Regions from separate parts of the Homo sapiens genome. Here region 2 is linked to region 1. A link means that fine-mapping ties the variant in region 1 to the expression of a gene that starts in the linked region. Tissue or cell type: whole blood. Region 1 holds a variant in brackets; the other region holds the start of a gene. Each region is shown on its reference strand, or each on the opposite one. Region 1 has its middle 47 kb from the start of MIR607. Region 2 holds the start of MAN1A1 (mannosidase alpha class 1A member 1).

Evidence for each region.
Region 2: it holds the start of MAN1A1, and the variant in region 1 is fine-mapped to the expression of MAN1A1 in whole blood (TOPMed, PIP 0.90).

Annotation. Positions count from the first base shown.
Region 1 is chr10:96,780,486-96,783,501 of GRCh38, reverse strand. No RefSeq gene overlaps it. Among named protein-coding and RNA genes, the nearest start is that of MIR607, 47 kb to the left of the region's middle. The variant A/C (reference allele first, on the strand shown) is at 1,489.
Region 2 is chr6:119,348,261-119,350,760 of GRCh38, reverse strand. It overlaps MAN1A1 (mannosidase alpha class 1A member 1), which reads left to right and starts at 1,000. Exons shown (of 13, transcript NM_005907.4): 1 at 1,000-1,219; 2 at 1,474-2,298. The coding sequence starts at 1,696. RefSeq lists silencers at 440-1,079, 1,590-1,789, 1,850-1,969 and an enhancer at 2,180-2,500.

The sequences.
Region 1 (3,016 bases):
TGAGCCACTGCGCCAGGCCAGAAGTATACTTTATAAGGCTCTTATACTATACATGAAAACGTATCTCATTTTAAGAAAAACTGTGATAGGTAAAAGATATATACTATAAAACCTAAAGCAACTTTTAAAATAAAAAAATAGCAAATAAGCAAATAAAATACCTTGGAATCATAACAAATATTTATTTAATGCAAAAAAAAGGGCAAGGGAAAAAAGTGAAAATAAGAGACAGATGAGGAAAAAAGAAATGCAAATAGCAAGATAACAGATTTAAACTTAACCGTATCACTAATCACCTTCAATATAAATAGTTTCAACTAGGGGTCAGTGAACTGTAGCTCGAAACCAAATCATGGCTGTTTCCTGGTTTGTTTGCTTGTTTGCTTGTTTTTTGAGACAGAGTCTCACTCTGTTGCCCAGGTTGGAATGCAGTAGCATGAATATGGCTCACTGTAGCCTCGATCTCCCAGGCCCAAGTGATCCTCCCACTTCAGCTTCCCAGGTACAATTTTTTTTTGTATTTTTTTGTAGAGTCTGATCTCAAACTCCTGGGTTCAAGTGATTCTCCTGCTTTGGCCTCACCAAATTACTGGGATTACAGTCATGAGCCACCATACCCCGCCATCTGTTGCCTGTTTTTGCGGTGCTCATGAACTAAAAGCAGTTTTTACATTTTTTAATGGTAAATTTTTTTCTATAACTGACTATATAATTGCTTCAATTTTGCCTCTTGTCCCACAAAGCCTAAAATATTTACTCAATATTTTGAGTAAGATATTTACTCAATATTTTGAGTAAGATATTTACTCAATATTTTGAGTAAGATATTTACTCAATATTTTGAGTAAGATATTTACTCAATATTTTGAGTAAGATATTTACTCAATATTTTGAGTAAGATATTTACTCAAAGGGTGAGCCTTTGAGTTTGCCCACCTGTGTGGTATAAATATCCCAATTATAAGGCAGAAAGTATAGCATTGGATGGACATTTGGGTAGTTTCCACTTTATGGCCATTATAAATAATGAAGCTGTTAACACTCATGTTCAAGTTTTTTTGTGAACATATAATATGTTCTCAATTCTTTCGGATATATGCATAAGGAACAGAACTCCTGAATCATGTGGCACCTCTATGTTTAACCTTTTGAGGAATGGCCAGACTATTTTCTTTTCTTTTCTTTTCTTTTTTTCTAAGATAGGGTCTTGATCTGTCACCTAGGCAGGAGTGCAGTGGTGTGATTTCGATTCACAGCAATCCCCACCTCTCTTGCTCAAGCAATCCTCCCACCTCAGCCTCCCGAGTACCTGGAACTACTGGAACTACAGGTGCATGCCACCATGCCTGGCCAATTTTTTTTTTTTTTTTGGTAGGGATAGGGTTTCACCATGTTGCCCAAGCTGGTCTTGAACTCCTGGCCTCAAGCGATCCACCTGCCTCGGCCTTGCAAAGTGCTAGGGTTACAGGCGTGAACCACCACGCCTGG[A/C]CAGACTATTTTCTAAAGTGGCTGCTCCGTTTTACTTACCTACCACTTGTGCATGAAGTTTCCAATTTCTCCACACTCTCACCAACACTTATTATCTATTTTTATTATAGCCATCCTAGGAAGTGTGAACTGGTATCTCAATATGGGTTTGATTTGCATTTTTCTGATGGCCAAAGGAGTTGAGATTTTCATTTTTTTATCGGCCATTTGTATATTTTCTTTGGAGAAATGTATACTCAGATCCTTTGCCCATTTAAAAATTGGATTATTGGGCCGGGTGCAGTGGCTCACGCCTGTAATCCCATCACTTTGGGAGGCCGAGGTGGGCGGATCACGAGGTCAGGAGATCAAGACCATCCTGGCTAACATGGTGAAACCCCGTCTCTACTAAAAATACAAAAAAATTAGCCGGGCACGGTAGCGGCTGCCTGCAGTCCCAGCTACTTGGGAGGCTGAGGCAGGAGAATGGCGTGAACCCGGGAGGCAGAGCTTGGGTGAGCTGAGATCGCGCCACTGTACTCCAGCCTGGGCAACAGAGCGAGACTCCGTCTCAAAAAAAAAAAAAACAATTTTGAATTATTTGTCTTATTGTTATTGGGTTGTAAAAGTTCTTTATATATGCTGGACACTAGACTCCTATCAGCTATATAATTTACAAATATTTTTTGTGGGTTTTTTTTTGCTTTCATGATGGTTTCCTTTGAAGCACAAATGTTTTTAATTTTGATGATGCCCAATTTACCTATTTTTTTCTTTGATTGCTTGTGCTTTTGGTATAGTATCTAAGAAATCATCATCTAATCCAAAGTCATAAAAATGTACACGTATTTTCTTCAAAGTTTTTTTTAACTTATATTTTAGTTTCAGGGGTACATGTGCAAGTTTGTTATATAGGTAAACTGTGTGTCACGAGGGAGACTTTTTTTTTGAGACAGGGTCTCACTCTGTTGCCCAGGCTGGAGTGCAGTAGTATGATCATGGCTCACTGTAGCCTCGACTTTCTGGGCTCAGGCGATTCCCCCACCTCAGCCTCTCGAGTATGAGTCCTCCCAACTTGTTATTATTGTTTCAAGACTGAAAAAAAAAAGAGGTTCTGTGATATCTCGCATAATTTTAGCATCAGCTTATACTGCAAAGAAGTCACCTGGGAAATGGATAAGGATTGCATTGGATCTGCAGATCAATTTGAGGAGCACTGCCATCTTTACAATATGAAGTCTCCAGTGCCCACTCTTTCTCACTTTCTCTCTCTGATCTGACTGTTCATCTCCACCAGCTTCTTCCCACTCCTGCCCACTTTAGCTTGCTCCAGGAAATTAAAAATTTGTCTTTCTTTTTTGTAGAGACCAGGTCTCACTGTGTTGCCCAGGTTGGTCTTGAACTCCTGGGCTCAAACAATCCTCCTGCCTCAGACTTCTAAAGTATTGGGATTACAGGCATGAGTGACTGTGCTCAGTTACTAAAATTCATCTTTCTTTCTTTTCTTTTTTTCTTTTTGAGACGGAGCTCACTCTGTTGACAGGCTGGA
Region 2 (2,500 bases), not on the chromosome of region 1:
GCTTTCAGAAATGCGAAGTCAGTCAACGTTTTCCTCTCTGATAACCCCTTATTTGTGGAGCAACAGGAGAATTACAACACATTTTGGAAAATAATTTCTATTGGACCAACTCCTCACTTCGCTGGAAGTAGTCGGATCCAAGACTTAATTTCAACACAGTGTTCGACTTATTGCTTGAAGCTACCGCAGCATAAAACTCGTCTTCGAATGGAAAATTTGACCAACTTCTATGAGGTAAATGAATAGTGAAAGTACGGGTGGGCGGGAGAGACATACAAGTTTTTTCGGTTTTTTGTTTTTTGGGGGAAGAAAGGGCGCATACGAAAAAAGTCCTAAGCAAGCACAGAACTGTGTCTCTTAGGATGTAAAAGGATGTTATACCAGAGAGCTCAAAAGCTCCCAGGGTCACGGCTCCCCTAACCGAGGGACTTGGGGTTTCACTGCTACCAGGCACCCGGGGAACCCCGGCCTTGGATAAAAAGAGGGTAACTGGAGTAAAGCCGTGCTTCTGAACGACCCAGCGCCCAGGACCCCCTGCCAGACCCCGCCTTTCCCGGGACCCCCTCGGGAGCGCCCCCGACCGCCCCGCACGGGTCGGAGGAGGAGGCAGAGAGGTCCCGCGCGGACCCAGGCGCCTCCCGGGCCAGTCGAGGATCAACCACCCCGGGGACCCCTGCCGAGGCCAGCGCAGGATAAACTCCCCGACCCCGAACTCTGCCTGCCGCTTCTCGGCGCTGGGCCTCAGCCACGGGTTCGACCGTCCTCCTCACCGCGGCTCCCGCCTACCTCGCGCCTCCCGGCCCCGCGACCTCCCCGCCGCCGGCCGGGCCCCGCCGAGGCTGCGCTTCCCGTAAACTCCCCGCCCCGCGCATCCCCCTCCTCGCCTCGGCCCCGCCCCCGCGGGACCCTGGGCGGCGCGTGATTGGCCCGGCCGCGCCGTCACTCTCCGGCCGCGTCGCCTCCCTCGCTTTCCACCGCCCCAAGACCGGCAGTGAGATTAGTGCTCGCGGGGCCGCGGCGGAGTGTACCGTGCTGCTCTACTCGCTGCCATTCGCCCGCAGGTCGGCGCGCTCGCCCACCTGAGCCGCGCCGGGGCTGCGGGACCGTGGGACAGCGCGCTCAGCCCAGCCTAGGAAAGAGGCAGCAGTCTCAGCGCGGAGATGGGGAGCGGGCGAAGTTGACGAGTCTCCCGCCCACGCTGCGCCCCTCCTGCCCAGAGGTGCGCTGCCCCTCCCCGAGGTGCTCGCGCGCTGCCCTGACCCCTTCCTGCGCGGGACACCCCTCCCCTACCCACGGGACCTGATAACTTCACCCCAAGTCCAGAGAGTGGGCTGCGAGGGCGGTGCCCGGACTGGACAGGACTCTGCTTAAGGGGAGCGGTCCTGGAGGCTCGCCAGGAGTCGGAGGGCGGAGACCCGCTGGAAACTTTATCATCGCCGTAATTACTACGTTTTACTGTTTCTCTCCCCGCAGGGGCTGCAGCCAGCGGTCTGTCGCGCGTGCCTGTGTGCCCGAGGAGCCGCCCCGGGGAGAAGACCCGGCGCGGAGTTGTTCCCCCAGGGAGGATCCGCAGCCCAGCCGAGGGGGTCGGGCGGCCTGGCTACGCAGGACCCAGCCCCGCAGCCGCGGACTCCCAGCGGCGGCGAAGTTTGGCTGCTGAGCGGCGCGGCGCCGGACCACTGGACAGCGGGAGCGATGCCCGTGGGGGGCCTGTTGCCGCTCTTCAGCAGCCCCGCGGGCGGCGTCCTGGGCGGGGGGCTCGGCGGCGGCGGTGGCAGGAAGGGGTCGGGCCCCGCCGCCCTCCGCCTGACGGAGAAGTTCGTGCTGCTGCTGGTATTCAGCGCCTTCATCACGCTCTGCTTCGGGGCGATCTTCTTCCTGCCAGACTCCTCCAAGCTGCTCAGCGGGGTCCTGTTCCACTCCAGCCCCGCCTTGCAGCCGGCCGCCGACCACAAGCCCGGGCCCGGGGCGCGCGCCGAGGACGCGGCCGAGGGGCGAGCCCGGCGCCGCGAGGAGGGGGCACCCGGGGACCCGGAGGCCGCCCTGGAGGACAACTTGGCCAGGATCCGCGAAAACCACGAGCGGGCTCTCAGGGAAGCCAAGGAGACCCTGCAGAAGCTGCCCGAGGAGATCCAAAGAGACATCCTACTGGAGAAGAAGAAGGTGGCCCAGGACCAGCTGCGTGACAAGGCGCCGTTCAGAGGCCTGCCCCCGGTGGACTTCGTGCCCCCAATCGGGGTGGAGAGCCGGGAGCCCGCCGACGCCGCCATCCGCGAGAAAAGGGCAAAGATCAAAGAGGTGAGTGGGCCGCGCCAGAAATCCCTCCCGACCGGCCGTGTTTTTCAGGGAGAAACGGCAAGCCTTTGAAACTCTGAAGACTGCAACAATGCAATGTATGGGGAGATGGAGGTTTGCCCCTTCCACCAGGTGCTGTGTCAAAAGCTCTTTCTTTTCCTGTTTCCAATATAGTAGTAGATGTGTCCAGTAAGATCTAAGGTCA